3 linked regions of the Homo sapiens genome follow. The protein of the gene in region 2 interacts with the protein of the main gene of each other region in a pairwise test. Each region holds a gene or a part of one and is shown on either strand. Other genes may lie near its edges.

The links.
Region 1: the proteins of PLAGL2 (region 2) and IRX2 interact in binary tests that used the Homo sapiens proteins (3 or more experiments, as listed by UniProt).
Region 3: the proteins of PLAGL2 (region 2) and DHX57 interact in binary tests that used the Homo sapiens proteins (3 or more experiments, as listed by UniProt).

What each region holds. Positions count from the first base shown.
Region 1 is NC_000005.10:2,745,663-2,748,802, forward strand, and holds the end of IRX2 (iroquois-class homeodomain protein IRX-2), read right to left. Parts: coding exon 2,683-3,140; intron 1,955-2,682; coding exon 1,902-1,954; 3' UTR 503-1,901; downstream 1-502.
Region 2 is NC_000020.11:32,197,718-32,204,844, reverse strand, and holds part of PLAGL2 (zinc finger protein PLAGL2), read left to right. Parts: exon of another isoform or gene 1-1,365; intron 1,366-2,552; 5' UTR 2,553-2,666; coding exon 2,667-2,926; intron 2,927-7,127. UniProt on the Homo sapiens protein: Shows weak transcriptional activatory activity.
Region 3 is NC_000002.12:38,858,812-38,865,938, reverse strand, and holds part of DHX57 (putative ATP-dependent RNA helicase DHX57), read left to right. Parts: intron 1-2,419; coding exon 2,420-2,578; intron 2,579-3,605; coding exon 3,606-3,794; intron 3,795-4,101; coding exon 4,102-4,940; intron 4,941-7,102; coding exon 7,103-7,127. UniProt on the Homo sapiens protein: Probable ATP-binding RNA helicase.

The sequences.
Region 1 (3,140 bases), on a different chromosome or scaffold from region 2:
AAATCCTTCCATAAATTTGAATAATTAGGCCAATTTGGATAATTCAGCCTTTAAAAAAAACAATTATTTCCATCAGTAATTTATTGGTGGGGGGGTGTGGCTCTCCATTATCAATATTATTCTCCAGTTTGGTTTACTGAGGAGGTTCAAGAAGCCAGCATCAGAAATAAATATAAAATGCATAGGGTGTCAGATCATTTTATTTTGCCAAGTTTTAAAAATTTACACTAACAAGTAATTAGCACACTCAGGGCACAAAAATCTTATGTTTTTTGGTTTTTTTGCAATACCTGTATAGAAATCATCTACAGCACATGTTTCTCCCGATTATATACTTCTCTTCCATCTGCCTTTTTTTTTTTTTTTCAATGCTCAGGAGAGAAAGGAGAGTTTATTTCACACAGGTTTTCATTAAAAAGGTGAGGTCAGATCACCTGGAGGTTATTCACTAGCGCTCTACCCCAAATCATTCTTCTAGGAAAAATAAGCCCCAAACATCATATTATTGTAGACTAGTCTGTTTTTATTTACAATTTAAGATATAAATTAGTAAAGAATTCGTGTTAAACAACCAACAAAGATTGTATAACCAGCAATGTTCAAATAAAAACCAGGCAGAATTTATTTACAAAAAGTTTAGATTCCATTGCAATACAACTTGCATAAATTACTAGAAGCTTTATATCATTATAAAAATAAATATCAAATTTGTTTCCACTTCTGAAGTACTCAAGTTCTTCCATCACGTTTTATTTCTACTGTGTACATCTTTTACAAATAAACTTTACAGTAAATCCTATCACACCTATAGAATATATACCGTGGCAATGAAGTGATCAATTCAAGATATCCTGAGAAAAACAGATTGTTTTCAAAAGTCACACATACATCGGGGAAACTATACTATGCCAACAAATTCACATATGTCCAACAATAGTCTGTTCCAATTGTTAGAGTCTGTGGGCTGACAGTGCTGTGTGGATCCTTCTCTTTTACAGTGGCACAAGATGTGGTCTGGATTTAGACATCTGTTTGTTGTATCTGTAAATTTATGAGCTTGGGAAGAGAGAATGGCCTGCTGACTTTTTTTTTTTTTTTTTTTTCAAAGCAATTGTGACACCTACCTGTGGACCAAGGAAAAAACCAAATCATCCCCAATCTTTCAGTTCCACAACAACACCATTATAAAAACGAGTTGATCTGAAGTGGTTCCAAATCTTTCTTATCTTCAAGATCTATGATTAGTAATTCTGACTCGTTGCAAAGCAACATATTTTTTGAGATACTGTTGTGAGCCCCGGGAGAATGTCAGAGTCCTGTCCACTTGGACATGGGTGGAGGGGAGGTTGGACAGGGCTGATAAAAGACTAGTACGCCTCGTGTCTCTTCAGTCTTATTTTGCAAACATCATCTATAAAGGTTTTTGCTACTCCAAGTTTTGGTAGCCCAAGCTCATCAAAGCATGTGTCTATTATGTGTCTAGCATAGTAAAAATGGCTCTAAATTGCATATAAATGCCCAGATTTTAATAATCTATTGTTTCAAAAGAAAACAACAGTAGTGTGTAATATATATATACACATGTACTATATATATACATGTACTATATATATACATATATATATTACACACACACACACACACATATATATATATATTTTTTTTTTCCTTCCCTAGGTAAAGGAGTGATAGAACTTGTGCCAAAAAGAGGGAATCTATAAAACAGAAAATATAGTTTCCCCCTTAAGGAAAGAAAAGCTGGACAAGATTGAAATGCTCTGTCTTCTAACCCCATGACCAGAAGCAAGAAAAACACATTAAGCAAGTTGGTGCTGGGAGGCTCCACAGGGTCTGGGAAGCACCAGGGTGCCCACTTACTTGCATTGCTGTGCTCGGCCCTTCTATAGGTAGGGCTGGACGCCCCCGCCAACCACGGTGCAGCCCTCGCTGGCATCTGTCAGGGGAGTGGGCAGTTAGTCAGAACCGACCCCACAGCCTGCTGGCTGCGCAGACCACCGTGCACCCACCATCCTCCACTCCCAGGCAAACAGCAGTTTGGGAAACCGACTGTCTCCAGGGCCGCTATCTGAGACGACTTTTGGTGATGGTCCCTAGTTCTTAACTTCCCCCCTTGAACTCCTCTTTCGGGTAGCCTGACTTAGGAGCAACACAGGCAACATAGCACAGGGGAAAAAACGGTTTTCTTTCCGAACAACGACAACAACAAAAAGCGGAAAAAACATTTGATTTTATCTTTTGAAGACAAAACGCCTCTGAGAGTAACTGGAACGTTCTGTTTGCCTCTAGCCAACGGCAGAAAAGCGGATTCAACTCTGACTCCTTAACAAGACACCGAAACACACCCAGGCTCATTAGGGCGACACGCTGTAATTTGAATTTCGTGGCAATCTGGGTTTGCCGAAACTAAGACAGCCACGATAGTAATAGTCAAAATAACAGTAAATTAAGTAAAAATAAATAATAACAGGGCAAGTCTAAAAAGAGGGCCACACCTTCTTTGGCTTCCATCTCGCCCTCCGCCCTCACTCTGCTAATTCTGGGTCCCAGGAGTGGCCCCCTGGATCTTCTTCCCGGACCCTCCCTCGGGTCTCCCGGGCGCTCCGCCTCCCCGGGGCTGGCTCTCCCTCCCCTCCCGGGCGCCGCCGGCCGCGGGCCGCCTACCTTTCTTGGGCTCGTAGCCGCCGCCCGGGGACCGGTAGTGGGACTCGAGCGGGTGCGCGCCCGCCTTGCCCGCGTCGCTGGCCGCCTTTGGCGCGGTGTGCAGGGCCTCGCCGGGGGCCGCGGCCGCAGAGTTGTACCGCAGGAGACCCTGGCCCTGCAGCGCCGCGTTCAAGTTCCCGTAGTTTGTGTAGTTGCCGTAGAAGGGCGACGTGTAGTAGAGGGGGCGGCCCAGCAGCGGCGAGGCAGGGTAGGGCGAGCCTCCTGGCGGTGCCCCGGTTGAGGCCGGCGCGGCGGCCGCGGGCAGCCCCGGTGGCCCGCAGCCCGGGCCCAGGCTCGGCTGCTTGAGGTCCGACGTGGCGATCTCGGCCAGCGACCACAGCTTGGGCTTGCTGGCGGGGGGCGGCGCGCCCGGAGACGTCCGGCTGCCCTGGGGCGTCTTGCGGCCACCGCGGGGCGCG
Region 2 (7,127 bases):
TGTTAAGATTAAAATGTGAGACCAGAAGAGCAGCTTTGAAAGAGAAGTAGAATTCTTTCACAGTTTTGCTGAGGAAGGACAAGTCTGAAGGAACAGGCCTTCTGCTTATGTAAGACAAACCCAGGAATCTTTCTGGATCAGAGGAGTTTTCAGACAAAGGGCAGAGAGAGACTAGATCCCCAAAAGGGTTCCTAGGTAACACTAGCAGCTTTGGTTATCCAAGAGGCTGCTGGTGACTGTAGGTAGGGACTTCCTGTGCCTTTTGAAAAGTGTAGGAGAGTAGGATCAGGGTGTTGGCTCTTTTCTTTGTGAAGACATAGCCCCATTAAAAGCAGATCAAGGTGAGCACATGGCTGCTGCTTTCCTCCTTTGGTTCTATCAGTACAAGCTCCTTAGCCACCACCAGCCTCTTTCCTAGAAGCCCATTACTCACTCTTTCAGTAGCAGCCTACTAAACTATTGTGTCTTGTTTGTGCTTGTTCAGGAGAACAGATGAGGTGGACGTGTGGGAGGTGGGGACGTAATGTTCTCTTTCTGAGTTTGTGTGGAGTTTCCAGGGCTAGGCTCCTCTCTCACATCAGCCAAATTGATGTGACTTGTTTCCTTCTGGCTGCCATTCCCAACTTTCCAGAGGCTGAGGTGCATGATTTCAAATTGAAGGGGGAGTAGAATTTGACTTTGAAGGTAGGGGTAATTCCCTCCAATCTAAACATGCACACTCGAGCACACTCTCTGCTCAATTCCAAGGTGCATAGTAATTGCTGGTATTACAAACAGGTAATTCCACCCTTGCAAAGGAGGAGGGGACTTAAACAATGAAAGCCAGACGTCACAGGCCTTTGAGGTTTATAGTGAAGCAGGCACATATGCCATAATGACTTGAAGGCTCAAGTGGGACTAGTTTTTAGTGCTACCTACCCCTCCCCAGCATGTGATTCATGCAAAATGCAGCCACCTTAATGCAGATCTTTCTAGACAAATCTACACTCGTGATGGGGACGTGTTTATCATATTACATCGCAGTGTTTCTTCAACAAGAGGAATGGTTCCTGAACAGGACGTAGCTCATGTTAATGATGAGCAAAGCTCTCTGGGGCATGAACCCGCTGATCCCATCATCTTGTTCACGGCCAGTCTGTTGGATGAATGGTCACTGTAAGCAGCAGGTGCTAATGAGCTGAGCAAGCATTCTGTGGCCCACAGCTAGTTTGTGCAGTTGGAGCCCTCCCCAGATTCTCGTGGATAATCCCCAGACACCCCCTTTTCTCTCTTCACATGGAAAAGCCTCATGATCAAATTTTGGCACCATCTCTTCAAAGGGAATCCCCCTGTTGTAGCAGGTTGCATCGTGGTTGGTAATCTGTGGTAAGCTTGGGAGTATGAATGTGGGTCTCTTGTCCCCTTTTGAGAGTCAGTGTGGTAACTCCCATCCTCTTCCTCTGGATTAGTATCTGGAATGGAGTTGTGTCGTTCTTGCACATCTCCCCTTCTATTCAACAAGAGAAAGAATCAGACTTTAAGATTTCGGCTCCCCACTTGGGAATGGCTGCGAACCCAGTTTAAACCAGAACTACCTGGGCCTAGGTTGGTCCCTGAGAATCAACCTGCATTCAGTGACTAGTTTACCTATCTGAAATAAAGTTAGGGTTCCTTTTCTAGATATTAGGTATATAGAGATGAAAGAGAGATGATGCAAGCCCTCAGACAATCAGGCTGGTGGAGAGGAGTAAATTCCAATGCGAGCTCGCTACCGTCTTCTAAAGGAGATGTGCATATGTACTCTGAGGCCCTGTAGGAGGGGCCTCTCAGCACCTAGGGGTGTTGGACAGGCTTTGCTAAAGAGGGATGGTCTGGGCCCTGAGACACAGTGACCCAGAGAAGTGGTGGTGGTCAGGATGGGACCAGTTCTAGTCCTGGTTTAGGGAAAATGCTAAGAATCTGCTGTTGCCTTCCCATATAGACCCTCCTGATGTTGATGCACTGCTAAGAAACACATCTGGTACCAGGACTGACTAGGATGTAAATTTCCTAAGTAGAGGCTTCCCCTTCCTCCTCTCTTGCCTTTTGGGCATTTTATTGCTCCTTAGCACCTCCATGAGGAGGACAATTGTGGAAAGTAGTGGACGAGGAGGTGCCAGGGTAATAAGAAGGAGGAACCGCTATCTCTAGGTTCAATGGAAAGGATATAAAAGTGAGGTCCAGAAGAAAAAGTTTGAAGTTTTGGGGCTTTTGGTTCCTCAGTTTATCTTGTTTCTTATTAGCCTAGATGGTACTAGTAATAGTAGCTACCACTAAGCACTTAATGGATGCCCAGCCTTCTGCTGAATGCTTTATATTCATGATCTCATTTAATCCTCAAAACATTTTTATAATTTAGGAGATTATTATGCCCATTTTATAAATGAGGAAACAGCTCAGGGAAGTAAGTAATTGGCTGAAAGTCACACAGCTTCTAAGTGGAAGGGCTGGGATTGGAACGGGATCTGTCTGCTTCCAGAGCCCATGTTCTCATGGTATTGGGCTCCCTAACACCAGGTGTTCTGATGTTTCAGGTGAAGAGATTGTTTTCTGAAAGCTGCGTTGGAGGCTGTGACAGAGCTGAGAGCCTGTGTGGAGCGGATGGGGAGGCTTTCTCAATAACATGGCCCTTTGCCATTAGCCTTGCCATGACCACATTTTTCACCAGCGTCCCCCCCTGGATTCAAGATGCAAAGCAGGAGGAGGAAGTGGGCTGGAAACTAGTTCCCAGGCCTCGGGGCCGGGAGGCGGAGAGTCAAGTGAAGTGCCAATGTGAAATTTCGGGAACACCTTTCTCAAATGGGGAGAAGCTGAGGCCTCACAGCCTCCCGCAACCAGAGCAGAGACCATATAGCTGCCCTCAGCTGCACTGTGGCAAGGCTTTTGCTTCCAAATACAAGCTGTATAGGTAGGTGACACTCTCATATCTCTTCCTGCCCTGAGGTTCCCAGAGGGAAAAAGCAGAGAGACTCTGCCTAGTGTGGGTTTTTAATCTGTGGCAGAAGAGTGGAGGTTAATTTGTCCTACAAGTATACCCTGAATGCCAAACAGTTGAAGTCACTCACTAAAAAATGATTCAGATTGCTTGATTCAGACACTAGAATCTGATGGGTTGCCTCCCCAAAGTATTGGGATTGCTGGCGTGAGCCACTGCACCTGGCCTTCTTACACCTTCTTAGTGACGATCTGGGTGCCAATGTCAGGCAGCCTTGAGTTTTGTTTGTTTGTTTGTTTGTTTTTTTAAGAAATGGGAGTCTTGCTCTGTCATCCAGGCTAGAGTACAGTGGTGCAATCAGCTCACTGCAGCCTCCAATTCCTGGGCTCAAGTGATTCTCTTGACTCATTCTCCCAGGTAACTAGGATTACAGGCTTGAACCACCGCACCTGGTTGTTTTTAATTTTTTGTAGATATGGGGGTGTGGCTGTGTTCCCCAGGCTGGTTTCAAACTCCTGGGCTCAAGTGATCCTCCTGCCTTGGCTTCCCAAAGCAGTGAGATTACAGGCATGAGCCACCGCACTTAGCCCTGAACATTTTTTTTTAAATATTGCTTTCCTCACCTTTGTCAGGTGATGGTCAGAATTTTAGCTAGAAGTTAGGAATCAGTATTCGAACTTTAGAAGGAAAAGTAGACCTTCTGGCCCAGTCTGTAAATTTTAAAGTAGAGGTTCAGAGTAGGGACATAACTTACCCAAGGTCACACAGCTTCAGAGGTCCTGCAGTGCCTCTTCTACTGAATCAGCCTGCTACTTACTCATTTAACTATGTCTGTCTCCCTGTTGCCCACTGGGGCAGCTGCTTTTCTGAAACTTGTAAGCCCAAGAACCCCTACTTAAAGTGAAATTAAACGTAAAAGCCCTGACATAAGGCAGATAGAGAAGAGCAGCTTTGGTTGCTTTGGTGAGGATGGGGAGGCATGGTCAAAAGCAATTTTGGGCCAGGCGTGGTGGCTCGCACTTGTAATCCCAGCACTTTGGGAGGCTGAGGCGGGCGGATCACTTGAGGCCAGGAGTTTGAGGCAAGCCTGGCCAACATGGTGAAACCCCATCTCTACTAAAAATTTTTTAAAAATTAGCTGGGTGTGGTGGCACATGCCTGTAGTCCCAGCTACTTGGGACTCTGTGGCAGGAGAATCACTTGAACCCAGGAGAAGGAGGTTGCAGTGAACTGAGATTGTGCCACTGTACTCCAGCCTGGGTGACAGAGCAAGACTGTCTCAAAAAAAACAAAAAAGAGCAATTTTGATTTTATCCTTTTCGCATTAGAGGAACCATGAACTTGCCCTTTAGAAATGAGATAGATCAGCCGGGTGCGGTGGCTCACGCCTGTAATCCCAGCACTTTGGGAGGCCAAGGCAGGCGGATCACGAGGTCAGGAGATCGAGACCACGGTGAAACCCCGTCTCTACTAAAAATACAAAAAAAATTAGCTGGGCGCGGTGGCAGGCGCCTGTAGTCCCAGCTACCGGGAGGCTGAGGCAGGAGAATGGTGTGAACCCAGGAGGCAGAGCTTGCAGTGAGCCGAGATCACACCACTGCACTCCAGCCTGGGCGACAGAGCGAGACTCCGTCTCAAAAAAAAAGAAATGAGATAGATTGGCCTGATGCACAGTCATCCAACCATCCATTCATCTATCCAACATTATTGAGCTCTTGCTCTGTACCAGGCACAGTGCTCGGTGCAAGGGGCGGAGTAGTGAGCCAGACAGATGGGGGTGCTGGTCCTCCTTGGGTTTATGGTCTTAATAGTGGGTACAGACAGTAAACAAGTAAATACATGAACAAGATGACCACAAAGCCTCAGTTCCTCATCTGGAAAACAGTTAATAGGAAGGGACTAAAATAGGCAACAGGGTAGCATGGTAGTCAGGATTGCCCTCTTGACAATTCTGTGGTCCTCAGGAGTGCTTAGATTCTCTGTGTGCTCCTATAAGTTAAGGGAACTCCAGTCAAGGCCATACTCTTAGGCTTTCTTTTTTTTCTTTTTTTTTTGAGACAGGGTCTCACTTTTGCCCAAGCTGGAGTATAGTGGCGTGATTATAACTAACTGCAGCCTCAAACTCCTGGGCTCAAGTGATCCTCCTGCCTCAGCCTCCTGAGTAGCTAGGATCACAGGCATGTACCACCACCACACCCGCTAATTTTTGCATGTTTCCTAGAGACAGGATCTCTTCCCTGTGTTGTGCAGGGTGATCTCAAATTCCTGGCCTCAAGCAGTCCCTCCACCTTAGCCTCCCAAAGTATTGGGATTACTGGCATGAGCCACTGCACCCGGCCTTCTTAGACTTTCTTAATGATGATCTGGTTGCCAGTGGGCGGCTGCAGGAAAGGTCCTGGGTCAGGAGGCAGGAGCCCTGACTCATCACATATAATTTACTGTGTGATCTTAGGTGAGTTGCTAGACCTCTTTGGGCCTCAGTTTCCTCACCTGCAAAATGAGGGAAATGAAAAGTGGATCACTCAGCACCTCCCTCTCTACATTACCACGTCAGTTCCATCACAGGAGGTTGACAGTAACCCACATAGGCACGAGCACTCTTGAGCATGCATATGTGGGATGTGGGCAGGGGGTGTGTTTGATACCCTCCAGGTAGAAAGGATCACAGAGTGCTGTACGAGAGAGAGACAGCTGTTGCATACCTGACTGAACATAGGTCTTCCGAAGGCCTGTTTAAATTCAGCCTCTGCTAGGGTGAGGGGGCTGCCTTTTTTTTAGACTCCTTTCCTTGTCTGGAGATCAAGGTTAATGACACAGCTTATGCAGAGCCTGGCAAACAGTGGGTGCTGAGTTGATTCTGAATATGCTCTGGAGCTGTGAATTGCAGTTCCTGGATTCTGAGCCACTTTTCAACCATATAGGATCAGGTAAACCAAGGGACACTGAAGTGCCATACCATTAAAACATTTCTTAAAGTGTTACTGGTTTATATGACAAGCAATTCAAGTGGTACATACTGGCATGCAGTGAAGAATGAATGATCCTCACACTCGAAGTCACTATTCCTCTCCCCAAAGGCAGCTGGTGGGTTGGTTTTTGTGTATCCTTCCTAAGACATTCAAACATGTATATTCTCTTTCTTTTTTATTTTCAAAACAGATTGTATCACATGTACTGTATTGAACTTCCTTTTTTGACTTAGCCCTGTATATCTTGGAAATTTGTTCTAGATAAGGAAGTTTATTTATTTATTTAGAGACGGAGTCTTGCTCTGTCACCCAGGATGGAGTGCAGTGGTGCGATCACAGCTCACTGCAACTTCAAATTCCTGGGCTCAAGTAATCCTGCCTTAGCCTCTTGAGTAGCTAGGACTACAGGTGCATGCTGCCATGCCCATCTAATGGTTAAGATTTTGTAGAGACAAGGTCTCGCTATGTTGTTCAGGTTGGTCTGAAACTCCTGGGCTCAAATGATCCTCCTGCCTCACCCTCCCATAGTGCTGTGATTACAGGCATGCACCACTGTGCCCAGACTGCACGTTTAGGTATATTTTATTTTCTCTTTATTGTATCATTTAAAATTATTTAAATGTAATGTTTAAAAAATGAAATACTTTCACGTAATTCAAAATTCAAAAAGTACCAAAACTTATACGATGAAAATTCTCCATGACACCCATCTATAAGCTGTTCGGTTCTTTTTCGCATAGGCAGCCACTGGTATCAGTTTCTTGTATGTCCTTCCAGAAATATTTTAGCCATATACAAGCAAACATACATATATTTTTCCCCTTTTCACATAGAGTCCTAGTCTACATCCACTATTCTGCCTCCTTGCTTTTTTTCTACTTCCTGTCTCTTAGGAGCATGTTCCCTGTAAGTACACAAAAAGCCTCATTTTTGAAAAGTTGAGTCATTTTATGGACTTATCATAATTTATGTAACCAGTTCCCTATTGATAGATTGGACGTTCAGATTGTTTCTGATTTTTTTTGCTACTACAAGCAATGCTGCAAAGAATGTCGGTACACATTATTTTGCAGATAGGCAAGGATATCTGTAGAATATAACTGGTTTGGTATTGCATTGCAAGCCTTTACCATGGTTTTTATATCTAGTTTCCTGTTAATGGACACCTTTGGTTGTCCAGTCATCCCTTGTGATCTCCCCTCTTT
Region 3 (7,127 bases), on a different chromosome or scaffold from region 2:
TGACTGGGTGTGCTTTGTAGAGAATAAACTATAAAGGGGCATGAGTTGAAAGCAAGGAGACCAGTTAGGAGATGTTCTCCAAGTGTAGATATAAAATAGATAATTTAATATATAAATCTGAGGTTCAAGAAAAAGATCTAGGCTGGAGATGTAAATGTGTGAGTCTTCTATAGATAAATGCTAAAGTTCTGAGTCTGGATAAAATCGAATAGAGAAGGTATCTGATGTTTGAGCCCTGGGACACTCTAGGTTTTAAAGCTAAGAGAATTTGGAATGTTCCCAACACAAAGAAATGATAAATGTGTGAGGTGTTAGATATCCTAATTACCCTGATTTGATCACTACACATTGTATGCATGTATCAAAATAGCACATGTACCCCTGTATTAGTCCATTCTCACGCTGCTATAAGGACATACCCAAGACTGAGTAATTTATAAAGGAAAGAGGTTTAATTGACTCACAGTACCACAGGGCTGGGGTGGCCTCAGGAAACTTACAATCATGCTGAAAGGGGAAGCAAAAGCATCCTTCTTCACAAGGTGGCAGGAGAAAGAAGAATGAGAGCCAAGTAAAGGGGGACACCCCTTATAAAACCATCAGATCTCGTGAGAAGTTACTCACTATCACGAGAATAGCATGGGGGAGACTGCCCCCATGATTCAACTACCTCCAACCGGTTCCCTCCCATAACATGTGGGGATTATGGGAACTTCAATTGAAGATGAGATTTGACTTGCAGCCAAACCATTATCAACCGTATAAAGAATGTACAATTATTATGTGTCAATAAAAATTTTTAGTTAAAAAATAAATAAAGCTAAGAGAAAGTATGAAAAACAAAGGGGATTGAGAAGGAGCTGCCAATGAAGTAGGAAACTAAGAGAGTGGTTTTTGGAAGCCAAGGGACAAAGGTGTTTTAAAGGAGAGTAGCCAATAAGATCGAATTGTATGCTTAAAGAGGGTACACATTTGTGGAAAAATGCTTCTGGTAGGTCAAGGAAAATGTGCACTAAGAATTGTCCACTGCATTTGACAATGTGGGTATCATGGTTAACCTTGACAAGAGCTGTAGTAGCATAGGAAATACTGATTGGGTTGTGTTTCAGAGAGAAGAGGAAAGAAAATGGAGACAGAGACAATGATTTTGATAACCTAAATGAGAAGTTTTACTATAAGGGAGCTAGAGGGAGGAGAGATGGGTCAGTAGCTACAGGGAGATGTGCACTCAAGGGAGGATTTGGCTTGGTTTCATTTTTTTAAGAGGGTAGACCTTATAGTATGTCTGTATGCTGATGGGAATGATCCAAAGAAGAATGAAAAACCAGTGATTTAGAAAGGGGGATAAGTGCTGGAATGATTTCCTTGAGGAGATTAAAGAGATTGGCATATAGTTTACAAATAGAAAGGCTGACTTTAAGATAAAGGATGACTTTAAGATAGGAGCATGTGAAACTCCCAACTCCCCCTCATGTTTAACTGATCATTTCCTAATGATCAGACAAATCATAAGAGATTATATATGCTGTGTAATTTTTTTATTTCTTTTTTTTTAAATAGAGACAGGATCTTGCTATATTGCCCAGGCTGGTCTCGAACTCCTGGGGCTTAAGCAATCCTACCACTTCAGCCTCTTAAAGTGCTGGAATTACAGGTGTGAGCCAATGCCCCTGGCCTTTTTTTTTTTTTTTTTAATAATCAGAAATAAAGATAATTGGGTATTTTAGAAATGGGGCCTTAATATTCACAAGGAAGAATGAAACTCAGTGGTTTTCAGATTTTAATGCAGAATGAAATGAAATGCTCTTCATGTCCTATAGTGCAGAGGAAACCATCATTAGCATTGCTTTTTCCTAAGGATTCTTGAGTTAGTGAAGCCAGAATTAATGATTAAGAATCTGTTAAGTTTTGTTGTTTTTTTTTTTTTTAAACGGAATCTCGCTCTGTTGCCCAGGCTGTAGTGCAGTGGCACAATCTTGGCTTACTGCAACCTCTACCTCCAAGTTCAAGTGATTCTCCTGCCTCAGCCTCCTGAGTAGCTAGGATTACAGGAGCGCACTGCCACGCCCAGATAATTTTTGTATTTTTAGTAGAGACAGCATTTCACCATGTTGGCCAGGCTGGTCTGAAACTCCTGACCTCAGGTGATCCGCCAGCCTCGGCCTCCCAAAGTGCCAGGATTACAGGCGTGAGCCACTGCGCCTGGCCAAGAATCTGATAAGGTTTTTTTCCAGCAGGTCTGATATAATGAAGTCTGGTAAATACTATAGAAAATGGAGAATCTCCTCACATTCATTGTCATCTTTTGTAAGATACTTGACAATCCAGTTTGTATTGTGTATATCTGGGGACCCCTGAGGAGAGTGTAAAAGTTCTGATTGAAGATATGTGTGTAATTTTGCTCTTTTGTTCTCTATAGACCTAGCAACAGTAACATAAGCAAAGGAGAGTCACGCCCAAAATGGAAACCCAAAGCCAAAGTACCCCTTCAGACTCTACATATGACTTCTGAGAATCAAGAGAAAGTGAAAGCTCTTCTCCGAGACCTGCAAGAACAAGATGCTGATGCTGGATCTGAGTAAATTGTTTTATTTGAGTCAATTATTATATTAAGGAAAACATACTGGCAGTGTGAAGGTCCTGTGCATCTTTGGAATGCTGTGTCAGTACTGATTCTATTGTGGCCATTTAATTAGTTGAAAGTGAGCCAAGAGTAATACAAGAATAATTATTCAGCCACAATTTTAGAGTGAGTTTGTTTTGCAACATCCATGGGATTGCCTTTTTATCTTTATTTTTTTCCAGGGCAGTGCTCATATGGATTCAGTAACTGATTTATCTGTAACCTTCCAGATAAACCCTTGTAATGAACAAGTAGAAGTAGTGTTGAATGAGCAAATATTGACTCGGTCAGGTGCAGTCTTAGGATTTGCTTGTCATGACTGTCTGCCTAAGAGAAAGCTTTTACTCTTAAATCTTATTCGTTTCCCACTCTACTGCATTTCGGCTCTTTTGCTTTGGATTTCAGTTGGAGAAGTTAATTCCTTCTTTCCATTTACCAAAATTAATTAGTGGCCAGTCATGAACAGCTCATTTTCCATCCTATCTACAAATCTCTTATCTGTTTTAGATTTAGAAAGGGAGATTATGTAGCAAAACAAACAATTAGGGATAGTGTTTTTATGAATGAGAAGAGAGAGAATAGCCAAGGTTTCTGTGGTTAAGAACACAGGAATCTGTCTGCCTTTGGCAAAATCTCTATTTGCTCCTTAATGTGTAACCTAGGCAGTTACTAATCCTCTCTGAGTTTTAGTTGATCATCTAGAAAAAAAAAAAAAAAAGGACATTCCAGTAGTATTTGGTACAGTTATTGGGAAGATTAAAGGAGTTAGTTCATATAAAGCACTTAACACAGTAACTGGTATTTAATAAATGCCTGGTAAATGTTAATTGCCAAGATATAAATTAATAGTTCAATATAAGATTAAATCAGCAACTGAAGAGTAGTCAGGATCCTATGAATTAAATTCTTAGACCTTTGCTAAATTTTTCTTTGAAGTAAGTAGAAAGTAATATCTAATATATGAAAATGTTGCCTTTGCTAGAAGAGGCCTTTCTGGGGAGGAGGAAGATGATGAGCCTGATTGCTGTAACGATGAGCGGTACTGGCCAGCTGGACAGGAACCTTCCCTCGTTCCCGACTTGGATCCTTTGGAATATGCTGGCTTAGCCTCAGTGGAGCCTTATGTTCCAGAATTTACAGTCTCCCCATTTGCAGTGCAAAAACTTTCCAGGTGATTGCTTTGATCATTTATGGGAGTTGGGAAAGAATTCAAGGAAACCGAAATCATATAAACCCACTACCCCTCTTTGTGTACTTTCCTATTATGTGGGTTCCAGCAATGCCTGATAGGCCTAATATTCTATCTTATCAGAAGGGGTCATTCAGGGGGGCTTATTGTTATCAGGGATGCTTTTTCAAAATACAAGCCCTGCCTATGTGTAGTCATAACTTCATCTAAGCATATTTAAATGAATTTTACTGTAATGGTGTGATACTGCTTTTTATGTGTCATTTTTGTCATGTTTTGCCCTTGACAGGTATGGTTTCAATACTGAACGCTGTCAAGCGGTCCTGAGGATGTGTGATGGAGATGTGGGAGCATCACTAGAGCATCTCCTTACCCAGTGTTTTTCAGAGACATTTGGAGAGAGGATGAAGATCTCTGAGGCAGTCAACCAGATAAGCTTGGATGAGTGTATGGAACAGCGACAGGAAGAGGCATTTGCTCTCAAGTCCATCTGTGGAGAAAAATTTATAGAAAGAATTCAGAACAGAGTCTGGACCATTGGGTTAGAACTGGAGTATCTGACAAGTAGATTCCGCAAATCCAAGCCAAAAGAAAGTACCAAAAATGTACAAGAGAATTCACTTGAAATCTGTAAATTTTACCTCAAAGGAAATTGTAAATTTGGATCAAAATGCAGATTCAAACATGAAGTGCCCCCAAATCAAATTGTTGGAAGAATAGAAAGAAGTGTAGATGATTCTCATCTTAATGCTATTGAAGATGCATCTTTTTTATATGAACTTGAAATTCGATTTTCTAAAGACCACAAATATCCCTACCAAGCTCCGCTCGTGGCATTTTATTCCACCAATGAGAACCTACCTCTGGCTTGTCGTTTACATATTTCTGAGTTTCTTTATGACAAGGCCTTGACATTTGCGGAAACTTCGGAACCTGTCGTATATTCTTTGATAACCCTTTTAGAGGAAGAGTCGGAAATAGTCAAGTTACTAACGAATACCCACCACAAGTATAGTGACCCTCCTGTGAACTTTCTGCCAGTACCCTCTAGGACCAGAATAAATAATCCTGCCTGTCATAAAACAGTGATTCCAAATAATTCTTTTGTTTCTAATCAAATTCCAGAAGGTATGTAAGGCATTGATCTTGTGGAGGGAGGCATTCAGAATGATGGGTTTAGAAGTCAAAGCCTTTAAGGCTGGTCTAGGATGGCTTAGTGATCTTGAACAAGCTGAACAAGCCATTAAGTCCCAAGGGCAAAAGGGAATGAGAATTCCCTGAACTGTAATTGTATCTGACTTTAATTGTAAGGCTCAATTGTGTTGCTGTGGTTGGGCTCCCTGAGTTGAAAGTTTGTAGTGACGTATGTTTAACTATATAAAATCCGAGGCTTGGAAGGACCTTAAGGTACGTTCTCAGAAAATCTGTTTTATTTAATTCATTTGGTTTTCTTTTGTTTACTTCTTATACTGTATACTGAATTACTTTCAAATGAATTTTTAGAGATATTTTGCTTTCTATACCACTATCCATACCCTCCTGCTTTTGGTGTACTAGACCCCCAGAATTCTTTAGGGATAGCTCTATGAATCCCTAAATCCTCAAATACTTGTGCAGGCTTCTAGCTTTGTCTAGATCTAGGTTTACTGTGCAAATTCTTTTTATTTTTATTTTTTTAAGATGGAGTTTCACTCTTGTCCCCCAAGCTGGAGTGCAGTGGTATGATCTCAGCTCACTGCAACCTCTGACTCCCAGGTTCAAGCGATTCTCCTGCCTCAGCCTCCTGAGTAGCTGGGATTACAGGCACCCGCCACCACGCCTGGCTAATTTTTCTATTTTTAGTAAGACAGGGTTTCACCATGTTGGCCAGGCTGGTCTTGAACTCCTGACCTCAGGTGATCCGCCTGCCTTGGCCTCCCAAAGTGCTGGGATTACAGGCGTGAGCCATCGCACATGGGCTGCTATGCAGATTCTTACACCACAAGTAAGCCCCTTTCAAAGAATTCTCTGCTGGGTGTGGTGGCTCATGCCTGTAATCCCAGCACTTTGGGAGGCTGAAGTGAGAGCACTGCTTGACCCCAGGAGTTTGAGACCAGCCTGGGCAGCATAATGAGACCCCATCTCTAGAAAATATATATATTTTCTTAGCTAGTCAGCCATGGTTGTGCACTCCTCTGAGTCCCAGGTACTCAAGAGGCTGATGTGGGGGAATCACTTCAGCCTCAGAGGTAGAAGCTGCAGTGAGTCATTGCATTTCGGCCTTGGAGACAGAGTGAGACTCTATTTCTTAATTAAAAAAAAAAAAAAAAGGATCCTCTTTTATTGGTTGCCATCTATCTTTCTTCCAGAGAAACAAAAGTTTGTATTATTTCATGAGAGTCCTTGGGTAAACTTCAATGAGTAGAGAACAGTGACACTGTTCTGAGATGTGGCTGCTGGTCATTTAGCCAGATTCACTCACTAACCACCCGACCCACTCCCAGATGGCAGCTTCTAGCGCATGGGATTCAAATGTGTTCCTTGGGAAATGAAAATTATGTGTCATGCACTTTTTTTCTAAAATAATAGTTTTATTGAGACATAATTTATATACCATAAAATTCACTCTTTTAAAATACACAATTCAATGGTTTTTAGTATTTTTATAGAATTATGCAACAATAACCACCTTTTAATCCCTGGACGTTATCATCAACCCCAAAAGAAACCCTGTACCCATGTACCCATAGCAGTCTCTCCTCATTTTCCCCTTCCCCCAGCCCCTCATAACCACAAATCTGCTGTCTATCTCTATGGATTTGCCTACTCTGGACATTTCATAGAAATGGAATTACACAATATGCAGCTTTTTGAGATGGGCTTCTTTCACTTAGCTAATGTGTTCAAGGTTCATCCGTGTTCTAGCACATATCACTACATCATTCCTTTTTATTAGTGAATAATATTCTATTATGTGGACATACCACATTTTGTTCATTGATTCATCATTTGATAGATATTTGTGTTGTTTTACGTTGTGGGATTTGGGGACACTTGCGTACAGTTGAAACATTCACTGCTAATTCTTTTAATGCTAATTACTTTGTTTGTGCTTGATAAAAGTTTATTTGAGGATGCATTTTAAGTTCTTTAGAAATAGAAATACTAGAAATGAATGAACTTACTTTATTCAAGTTTTCACTTTTTCTCCATTTTGACTTTTTGTTGTTGATACTCTGTTAGACAGCGACTTTCCCCTTTTGTTAAAGAAAGGGCTCCATACTGAAATGTTTTCTTTTATTTCCTTCAAGTTGAAAAAGCATCAGAATCTGAGGA